Homo sapiens: one gene and its partners. The protein of the gene in region 1 purifies or fractionates together with the protein of each later gene. This does not show direct contact. Each region holds a gene or a part of one and is shown in the gene's direction. Other genes may lie near its edges. The genes, in order: OR5M11, RPSA2 and CLPTM1.

The links.
Region 2: the proteins of OR5M11 (region 1) and RPSA2 purify together in Homo sapiens (affinity purification with mass spectrometry; one large-scale study listed by BioGRID and IntAct). This does not show direct contact.
Region 3: the proteins of OR5M11 (region 1) and CLPTM1 purify together in Homo sapiens (affinity purification with mass spectrometry; one large-scale study listed by BioGRID and IntAct). This does not show direct contact.

The regions. Positions count from the first base shown.
Region 1 is NC_000011.10:56,541,831-56,544,633, reverse strand, and holds OR5M11 (olfactory receptor 5M11), read left to right. Parts: upstream 1-1,376; coding exon 1,377-2,294; downstream 2,295-2,803. UniProt on the Homo sapiens protein: Odorant receptor.
Region 2 is NC_000019.10:23,825,432-23,829,088, forward strand, and holds the end of RPSA2 (small ribosomal subunit protein uS2B), read left to right. Parts: intron 1-783; exon of another isoform or gene 784-904; intron 905-1,638; 5' UTR 1,639-1,730; coding exon 1,731-2,618; 3' UTR 2,619-3,437; downstream 3,438-3,657. UniProt on the Homo sapiens protein: Required for the assembly and/or stability of the 40S ribosomal subunit. Required for the processing of the 20S rRNA-precursor to mature 18S rRNA in a late step of the maturation of 40S ribosomal subunits. Also functions as a cell surface receptor for laminin.
Region 3 is NC_000019.10:44,975,782-44,979,438, forward strand, and holds part of CLPTM1 (putative lipid scramblase CLPTM1), read left to right. Parts: intron 1-1,561; coding exon 1,562-1,679; intron 1,680-3,657. UniProt on the Homo sapiens protein: Involved in GABAergic but not glutamatergic transmission. Binds and traps GABAA receptors in the endoplasmic reticulum (ER).

The DNA.
Region 1 (2,803 bases):
ATTGTATGCACTAGTAGTGTGACCTCGGTTCAATTATTTAACCTTTTTGTACGTTGCTTTTCTCAATAGTAACAGCAAGACAGAGTTTTGATTATAGGCATTCTAAAACTTACAGTAAAATAAATGAGGTGACTCATTTTGAGATGAGACAAGAATTGAGAAGCCTGTAATAAAAATTTCAAGTATGAAAGAATGGGCAAAAATTAAAAACTTCTCGAAAGAAAGGAAAATGTGAATTAGCAAAGATTCTGATGTGAAGAGAGGTAAAAAGCCAAAAGGATTTGTAATACCTCTTGTTAGATACAAGTTGTGATTAAAAGATTAAATACCAACTCTGAAAATATTAATTTATTTTCTTTCTAAACACATTAAGTCATTGCTCTAAACATCCTCAAGATACTATATGAAAATTTATTTTATTTCACAGTTCTTTGTTCATTTATTTGGCATATGTTTATTGAGCCATTCTGACTGTGCATTTTGAGCTATGATCTTGGAACACTTGCATTAGAATCCTACAGATAATCATTAGAGATGAAGATTCCAGTACCCCACATAAGAATTTCTGCAAAAACCTGTGATATGGGCTAATAAACAAGCTTCCCAAGAATTGCTTCTACACTAAGTTTCAATAATCACTTAATTCTCCTGAGAACATGACATCACGCAAGGCTACATGGAGATAAATCTGTGAGTAAAAATTGCAAGTCATTCATTCTTACATGCTCTCCTTTTTGCATTTTAAGAAAATTTAGTATAAAAATATGTGTTGAGAAGTATAATTAAAAAATGAACTTCACTTTGTCCCTGCTCTCAACACCATTATGTGATGAGAAAGTATATACTTTATAATGATACAATGGGGGCTAAATAATAAATTAGAGAAATATAGAATACTCTGGAAATAAAGAAGAGAGAATTCAGTGACACGTATTAGGAGAAATGGATGAGAAATGCTTCACAAAGAAGTGGCCTTTAAAGTGGGTCATGTAGCATGAATAGAATTAGGTTTTAAAAAGTACAGGAAGATAGAAGAGATGTAGCTCAGTCATATAGATAGATAGATAGATAGATAGATAGATAGATGATGGATAGATAGATACAGGTGTAGGTATAGATATATCTATAGGTGTAGAGAAAGAATATATTAGTAATGTAATGCCTAGGCAAATGATATAATGACATTGTAGACTTACAAAATTATAGTAAGTCTACCATAATTACCAAAACCAGTTTATGGTAGTACCCAGAAATAGATAACTTTCGATGATATATGAAGATGTGGAGAAAAACTAATTCAAATGAACATTAACATGGTATGTGCATTTGTTTATATTGGCTTTATTTCCATAGCTTGAAGAGCAAACTGTCAGGAAATGTCCAACACAAATGGCAGTGCAATCACAGAATTCATTTTACTTGGGCTCACAGATTGCCCGGAACTCCAGTCTCTGCTTTTTGTGCTGTTTCTGGTTGTTTACCTCGTCACCCTGCTAGGCAACCTGGGCATGATAATGTTAATGAGACTGGACTCTCGCCTTCACACGCCCATGTACTTCTTCCTCACTAACTTAGCCTTTGTGGATTTGTGCTATACATCAAATGCAACCCCGCAGATGTCGACTAATATCGTATCTGAGAAGACCATTTCCTTTGCTGGTTGCTTTACACAGTGCTACATTTTCATTGCCCTTCTACTCACTGAGTTTTACATGCTGGCAGCAATGGCCTATGACCGCTATGTGGCCATATATGACCCTCTGCGCTACAGTGTGAAAACGTCCAGGAGAGTTTGCATCTGCTTGGCCACATTTCCCTATGTCTATGGCTTCTCAGATGGACTCTTCCAGGCCATCCTGACCTTCCGCCTGACCTTCTGTAGATCCAGTGTCATCAACCACTTCTACTGTGCTGACCCGCCGCTCATTAAGCTTTCTTGTTCTGATACTTATGTCAAAGAGCATGCCATGTTCATATCTGCTGGCTTCAACCTCTCCAGCTCCCTCACCATCGTCTTGGTGTCCTATGCCTTCATTCTTGCTGCCATCCTCCGGATCAAATCAGCAGAGGGAAGGCACAAGGCATTCTCCACCTGTGGTTCCCATATGATGGCTGTCACCCTGTTTTATGGGACTCTCTTTTGCATGTATATAAGACCACCAACAGATAAGACTGTTGAGGAATCTAAAATAATAGCTGTCTTTTACACCTTTGTGAGTCCGGTACTTAATCCATTGATCTACAGTCTGAGGAATAAAGATGTGAAGCAGGCCTTGAAGAATGTCCTGAGATGAAATATTGTCATGACCATGGTGATGCCTTTGTTTCCTAATAAACATTAAATCGAAATCTTTGGCTCACATGTCCTAGCGTTCTGATGGTGAGTTTTAATATTCTCTGTGAGTCTATGTTGAGTGTCTCAGCTAAAAAGCTCATGCTGGGTAAAAATGAGATTTTTCTAGGCTTTGCTCCTCCACATATATTCCATGAATCAGCAGCATGAGCTCTTCCTTGGAGGTTGTTACACGTACAGAATCAAAGTCTGCACCTCAGGTGCACTGTATTTAAATATGTGTTTTATCCAAACTCCTAGATGATTGATAAGCACACTGAATTTTGAGGAGCACTGCTGTGGGTGAAACGTGGCATGCCCTGGAACACTGTTGTGCTCTTTTTGTTTACAATGGCAAACAAAATAAATGTGCTCCCAGCCCAATTTCTTGAATGTATTCTATTCTTATTCTCGCCTGCTGCTTCAGCAGAGATGTCTTTAAGAAACCCATTCTTCTGCACTCCAAGAAAT
Region 2 (3,657 bases), on another chromosome or scaffold:
TGAGCTATACGTCTTTTTCCAATAGAATTATCTCTGTGTTTGTTTTCCTGTATACAAAAATAAATGTTATCCTTGTATTTTTTTTCTAACTTGTATATTTGTTGTGTAGGTTTGTTGTGAATGGTTTTCTAATTCTGCGTAGATGAGTCATCATAAAATACTCTTTTTTTTTGAGATGGACTCTTGCTCTTCTTGCCCAGGCTGGAGTGTAATGGCGCGATCTCAGCTCACTGCAACTTCTGCCTCCTGGGTTGAAATGATTCTAGTGCCTCAGCCTCCTATGTAGCTGAGATTACAGGCATGTGCCAACATGCCTGGCTAATATTTTTGTATTTTTAGTAGAGACAGGGTTTCTCCATGTTGGTCAGGCTGGTCTTGAACTCCCAACCTCAGGTGATCTGCCCGCCTCAGCTTCCCAATGTACTGAGATTACAGGTGTGAGCCACCATGCTCAGCCCATAAAATTTTTATAATTTCAACAACCTATTTATTTGTAAATCTATATGATTTCTGTGTGGGAGAAACACTTTTGGATTTGAATATAATTTAAAACTATCATAACTCTGTATCTCTTTTAGTTATTATTGTTTATTTCTTGTCAAAAAAAAACAAAATTTACCACAAAATATTTTTAAATATTTAGTCATATCAATTATCTTGACATTGTCATGCAACATATTGCTAGAATGTTTTTATCTTGCAAAGCTAAATCTTAACACATATTAAACAACAAGTACTAATTTTTAATTTTTTCTTTTTTTCTTTTTTCTTTTTTTTTTTGAGCTGGAGTCTTACTCTGCTACTCAGGCTGGAGTGCTGTGGCATGATTCACCTCACTGCAACTTCCACCTCCCGGGTTCAAGCAATTCTCACGCCTCAGCCTCCTGAATAGCTGGAATTACAGGTGCCCATCACCATGCCTGGCTAATTTTTGCATTTTTAGTAAAGATGCAGTTTCACCATGTTGGCCAGCGTGGTTTCAAACTCCTGACCTTAGGTAATCTATCTGCCTCAGCCTTTCAAAGTGCTGGGATTACAGGTATGGGCCACCATGCCTGGCCACAATTTTTTCTGTTTTATAGCGTTTTGCAAACACCACTCTGTTTTTTGTTTTTAACAGTATAACTACTTCATGTATGTCATAAAATCTGTGTCTTTTTGTGATTGGCTCATTTCATTTTGCATAATGCCATCAAGATTTATATTTATAGTTGGTAGAATATTTCCTGCTTTTGAATACTGAGTATATTCCAGAATATATATATATATTTTTTGAGACAGTCTTGCCCTGTCACCTAGGCTGGAGTGCAGTGGGGCGATCTTGGCTCACTGCAACCTCTGCCTCCTGGGTTCAAGCAATTCTTTTGCCTCAGCCTCCCGAGTAGCTGGGATTACAGGCACGTGCCAACACGTTTGGCTAATTTTTGTATTTTTTTTTTCAGTAAGGACAGGGTTCACCATTGTTGGTCTGGTTGATCTCGAACTCCTTACCTTGTGATCTGCCTGCCTTGGCCTCCCAAAGTGCTGGGATTACAGGTGTGAACCACCGTGCCTGGGAAGAATTTTTATATTTCAAATTATATCTACTGAATGATTTATTGAAAGATATTTGCATTGCTTTTACCTATTTGCTTACAGTAACAATGCTGCAGCTTTTCCGCGCTACCTGCAGAGGGGTCCATACGGCGTTGTTCTGGATTCCCGTCGTAACTTAAAGGGAAACTTTCACAATGTCCGGAGCCCTTGATGTCCTGCAAATGAAGGAGGAGGATGTCCTTAAGTTCCTTGCAGCAGGAACCCACTTAGGTGGCACCAATCTTGACTTCCAGATGGAACACTACATCTATAAAAGGAAAAGTGATGGCATCTATATCATAAATCTCAAGAGGACCTGGGAGAAGCTTCTGCTGGCAGCTCGTGCTATTGTTGCCATTGAAAACCCTGCTGATGTCAGTGTTATATCCTCCAGGAATACTGGCCAGAGGGCTGTGCTGAAGTTTGCTGCTGCCACTGGAGCCACTCCAATTGCTGGCCGCTTCACTCCTGGAACCTTCACTAACCAGATCCAGGCAGCCTTCTGGGAGCCACGGCTTCTTGTGGTTACTGACCCCAGGGCTGACCACCAGCCTCTCACGGAGGCATCTTATGTTAACCTACCTACCATTGCGCTGTGTAACACAGATTCTCCTCTGCGCTATGTGGACATTGCCATCCCATGCAACAACAAGGGAGCTCACTCAGTGGGTTTGATGTGGTGGATGCTGGCTCGGGAAGTTCTGCGCATGCGTGGCACCATTTCCCGTGAACACCCATGGGAGGTCATGCCTGATCTGTACTTCTACAGAGATCCTGAAGAGATTGAAAAAGAAGAGCAGGCTGCTGCTGAGAAGGCAGTGACCAAGGAGGAATTTCAGGGTGAATGGACTGCTCCCTCTCCTGAGTTCACTGCTACTCAGCCTGAGGTTGCAGACTGGTCTGAAGGTGTACAGGTGCCCTCTGTGCCTATTCAGCAATTCCCTACTGAAGACTGGAGCGCTCAGCCTGCCACGGAAGACTGGTCTGCAGCTCCCACTGCTCAGGCCACTGAATGGGTAGGAGCAACCACTGACTGGTCTTAAGCTGTTCTTGCATAGGCTCTTAAGCAGCATGGAAAAATGGTTGATGGAAAATAAACATCAGTTTCTAAAAAAAAAAAAAAAAAAAATGCTGCAATAATTATGAGTCTATAAATGACTACTTATATGACCATATATGTGAAAGTTTATATATGTGCTGCATTCTATTTTATTAGTCTACTTTTTCACCTTTATACTCATATCAAATTGTTTAATTTGGTAGCTTTGTAATGTGTTTTGAATCAGGCACTTTAATGCCTGCAGCATTCTTTCTTTCTTTTTTTTTTTTTAATATTGTTGGGTAGTTTGTTTTTCTTTTGAGTCTCTGTATACTTTTGAGGTTGGTGTTTCTATTTCTTCAAAAATGCAATGAGAAATTTGAAAAATATTGCATTAAATCTGTAGATTGCATTGAGCAGGATGGACTCTGCAATATTAAGTATTTCAACCTTTGTGTAAGAGCACACTCAAGAGTGTGTTGTTTAGTTTCTATATATTTGTAAATTTTTCAGTTTTTTTTTTTTGCTTTTATCGTTGTATATTCTCATTCCATTTTGGTCATAGAATGTAGTTCATAGAAATTTACTTTTAAAAAATTTGATAAGACTTCCTTTTTGTCCTAAGATGTGGTCTTTCAAGGGAAATGTTGTATGAGCTATTGAGAAGGGTGTGTATTCTGATGTTGTTGAGGAGTGTTCTCCATAACTCTGTTTGGAATAATTGTTTTATACTGCCTTTAAGTAGTCTGTTCTTTTATTAACATTCTTTCTTGTTTTAGTTTTATTACAAAAAGTGTGGTATTAAAATATATTGTTCTAATTATATTGCTTTCTGTGTGTTTCTTCCATTCTGTCAATATTTGCTTTATATACTTGGAACCCTAATGTGAGACACACACACACACACACACACACACACACACAAATTTGTCATAGATTCCCTGTGAATGAATCTATTATTTTTTGATGTCCTTCTTTGTTTCTTTGGAGTTTCAATTTCAAGCACATTTTATAAAATATTATACTTTCTGACTTAAGATGTA
Region 3 (3,657 bases), on another chromosome or scaffold:
TTGAACTCCTGACCTCAAGTGATCCACCTACCTTGGTCTCCCAAAGTGCTGGGATTACAGGCGTGAGACACCGCGTCCAGCCATCATTCTTTTCTTTTTGAGATGGGGTCTTGCTCTGTTGCCTAGGCTGAAGTGCAGTGGTGCAATTACAGCTCACTGCAGCCTCAACCTCCTGGGCTCAAGCAATCTTTTCACCTCAGCCTCCCAAGTAGCTGGGACAACAGGCATGCACCACCATGCCCAGCTAATTTTTTGTAGAGATGGGGTCTCAACATGTTTCCCAGGCTGGTCTCAAACTCCTCTGCTCAAGCGATCCTCTCACCTCAGCCTCTCAAAGTGCTGGAATTACAGGCATGAACCACCCCACCTGGCTGGACTTTCTGACCTGCACTGAGAGGTGACTCCCACAGAGACCTCAAGCCCAGCCCCCAGGCCTTGCCACGAGATCCAAGGAAGGACCAGGGCCTGGCAGGCCCAGCAGGGGGATCTGCTTCCAAGGGCTTGGATCTAAGTCGAAGCTTCAGGGTGGGGTCCAAGTGGACTTAAAAGGCAGGAGAGCTGGGCACAGTGGCATGTGCCTGTAGGCACAGCTACTCAGGAGGCTGAGGTGGGAGAATGGCCAGAGCCCAGGAGTTTAAGACTGTAGTGTGCCATGATCGCAACTGCAAATAGCCAGTGCACTCCAGCCTGGGCAACACAGGAAGACCCCATCTCTAAAAAAGATAGGGAGAGTGAGGAGAACACAATGTGGCCAACTGAATTCGAGCTCTGCACAAGGATCAGAGAGGTTCAGTGCTCGCCTTTGTCTCCACCCAGTGCCCCTGGACAACTTGCCTCCCTTCTTGAAGCCTCAGTTTCCTCATCTGGATCAAGTGAGAATAGTCCCCCTTCCCTGGGAGGCAAGGAGACTTGATGAGATAATGAGGAAGACTTGGGCAGAGAGGGGCCAGCTGGAGGTAGCAGGGAGTAGCACCCAGGAGCCCACAGACTGGGTTTCCATCTGCGTACTTGCCACACACTATGTGACCCCTTGGCATGAGCCCCGTTTGCCTCATCTGCAAAATGGGGTGGTAACATGACCCATTGCATAAGGTTGACATGTTATATGTGTGTTAACTCGTTAGATTAGGAAGCTGTTGTCTGAAGTGCCCAGGGCAGGGTCTGGCCCATAGTAGGAGCTCCATGTCGGTCAGCTGCTTCTTCCTGTTGAGTGAGCTTAACGAGAGCTCGTTGACTGAGCTGTGTGCCAGTGCTCCAGGTAGTCCCTGCAGTGGTGCCCTCGGGTCAGTGCTGTGGGAACTTCGCATCCTCTAGGTGGGGCCCTGAGGCTCAGAGAGAAGCTGAGCTCACACGGCCATGGCAGGTAGAGCGGGCGTCTGAGTCTGTCTGACTCCAGCATTTACCTCTCTGCCACCCAGCTACATGCCCCACCCTGAGTACTCAGTAAATGGCCAGAGAGTTGAGGGGGAGGAAACTGCTGCAGATGGGTGCCAGGCAGGGCTTTAACGTTTCCCTCACCCCAGTTGCCCAGCCTGCCCACCTGACCTTCCGTCTTTTGCAGAGCGTCCAGCAGAACGGCTCCATCTACATCCACGTTTACTTCACCAAGAGTGGCTTCCACCCAGACCCCCGGCAGAAGGCCCTGTACCGCCGGCTTGCCACAGTCCACATGTCCCGGAGTAAGTCGCTCCCCTGCAGCCAGGACCCACTGTCCAGGAGGCCAGCATCCTGGGAGCCCCCAGGCTAATGTGGCGGACAAATCCCAAGTCCAGGAGGGCAGGCAGGAAGCCTGTGCTCAAAGAGGGTGGGATTGGCAGGGCAGGCTCAAGCCCCACCCAGCCTGAAAGAGCCCTGTGGACACTAAGCAGGGATACCCACGGAGGAAGGGAGACCCACGGAGGCTCAGGGACCAGAGAGAAATTGGCCAGAAAAAGCAGCTGGAGACAGGGACTCTTGGAGAGGAGGAGACGTCCTTCACCAAGGGGGAAGGGCCAGGGTTGACTTTTGCACAGTAGGGGCCTGATAGAAGTAGACACTCAAAAATAATTTGTGGGCTGGGTGCAGTGGTTCATGCCTGTAATCCTAGCACTTTGGGAGACAAGGTGGGCAGATTGCTTGAGCCCAGGAGTTTGAGACCAGCCTGGGAAACATGACAAAACCCTGTCTCTACCAAAAAAGACACAAAAACTAGCTGGGCGTGTGCCTGTAGTCCCAGCTGCTCAGGAGGCTGAGGTGGGAGGATCGCTTGAGCCCAGGAGGTGGAGGTTGCAGTGAGCCAGAATCACACCACTGCACTCCAGCCTGGGTGACAGACCGAGAACCTGTCTCAAAAAGATAGATAGAGGCCGGGCACAGTGGCTCACGCCTGTAATCCCAGGACTTTGGGAGGCCGAGGCGGGTGAATCACAAGGTCAAGAGATAGAGACCATCCTGGCCAACACGGTGAAACCCCGTCTCTACTAAAAATACAAAAATTAGCTGGGTGTAGTAGCATGCTCCTGTAGTCCCAGCTACTTGGGAGGCTGAGGCAGGAGAATCGCTTGAATCCAGGAGGCGGAGGTTGCATTGAGCTGAGATCACGCCATTGCACTCCAGCCTGGTGACACAGCAAGACTCCGTCTCCGTCTCAAAAAAAAAAAAAATAGATAAAATTCAAAGAACAGTGTGGGCAACATAATGAGACTTCGTTGCTACAAAAATTAATAGCCAGGTATGGTGGTGAGCACCTGTGGTTCCAGCTACATGGGAGGCTGAGGTGGGAGGATCGCTTGAACCTGGGAGGTCAAGGATGCAGTGAGCTGTGATTGCACTACAGCTTTCCAGCCTGGGCGACAGAGCAAGTCCACGTCTCTGAAAAAACAATAGTAATAAAAAATAAGACTACCACTTCTACTCCCATGATAACTCATTAATCCATTAAACCACTAATCCATGAATGGGTTAATCAGTTCCTGAGGGGAGGGTCCTCATGACCCAGTCACCTCTTAAAAGCCTCATCTCTCAGTACTGGCACATTGGGGATTAAGTTTCACTGGGAGTGGGGAGTACTAGAGTACATCAGTAGTCCCAGCTACTTGGGAGGCTGAGGTGGGAGAATCAGCATGAGTTTTGGCCAGGACAAACATTCAAACCATAGCATTGTCCGTCCTCTTGTTTTCGAGAAGTTAATAATTGTTGTCATCTTTCTGCTTGCCTGGCTCTTTTTTTTTTTTTTTTTGAGACAGGGTCTCACTATGTCGCCCAGGCTGGAGTGCAGTGGACTATCTCAGCTCACCACAATTTCCACCTCCCAAGTTCAAGCGATTCTCCCACCTTAGCCTCCAAAATAGCTGGGACTACAGGCACACGCCACTACGCCCGGCTAGTTTTTGTATTTTTAGTAGAGACGGGGTTTCGCCATGTTGGCCAGGCTGGTCTCAAACTCCTGACCTCAAGTGATCGTCTGCCTCGGCCTCCCAAAGTGCTGGGATTACAGGTGTGAGCTGCCACACCCAGCCTTGCTTGGTTCTCTGTGAGCTTTTTCCCTGAGTCCTCTGTCTCCTGATGGGCAGCCGTAGAAATCTCTTGCTGTACCTGTTTGAGCGGAGCTGGAGAATGGCTTCCTCAGAAAGCCCCCCATTCTTCTAACGGGAGTTCTGTGTACTCCACCTAGCTTTC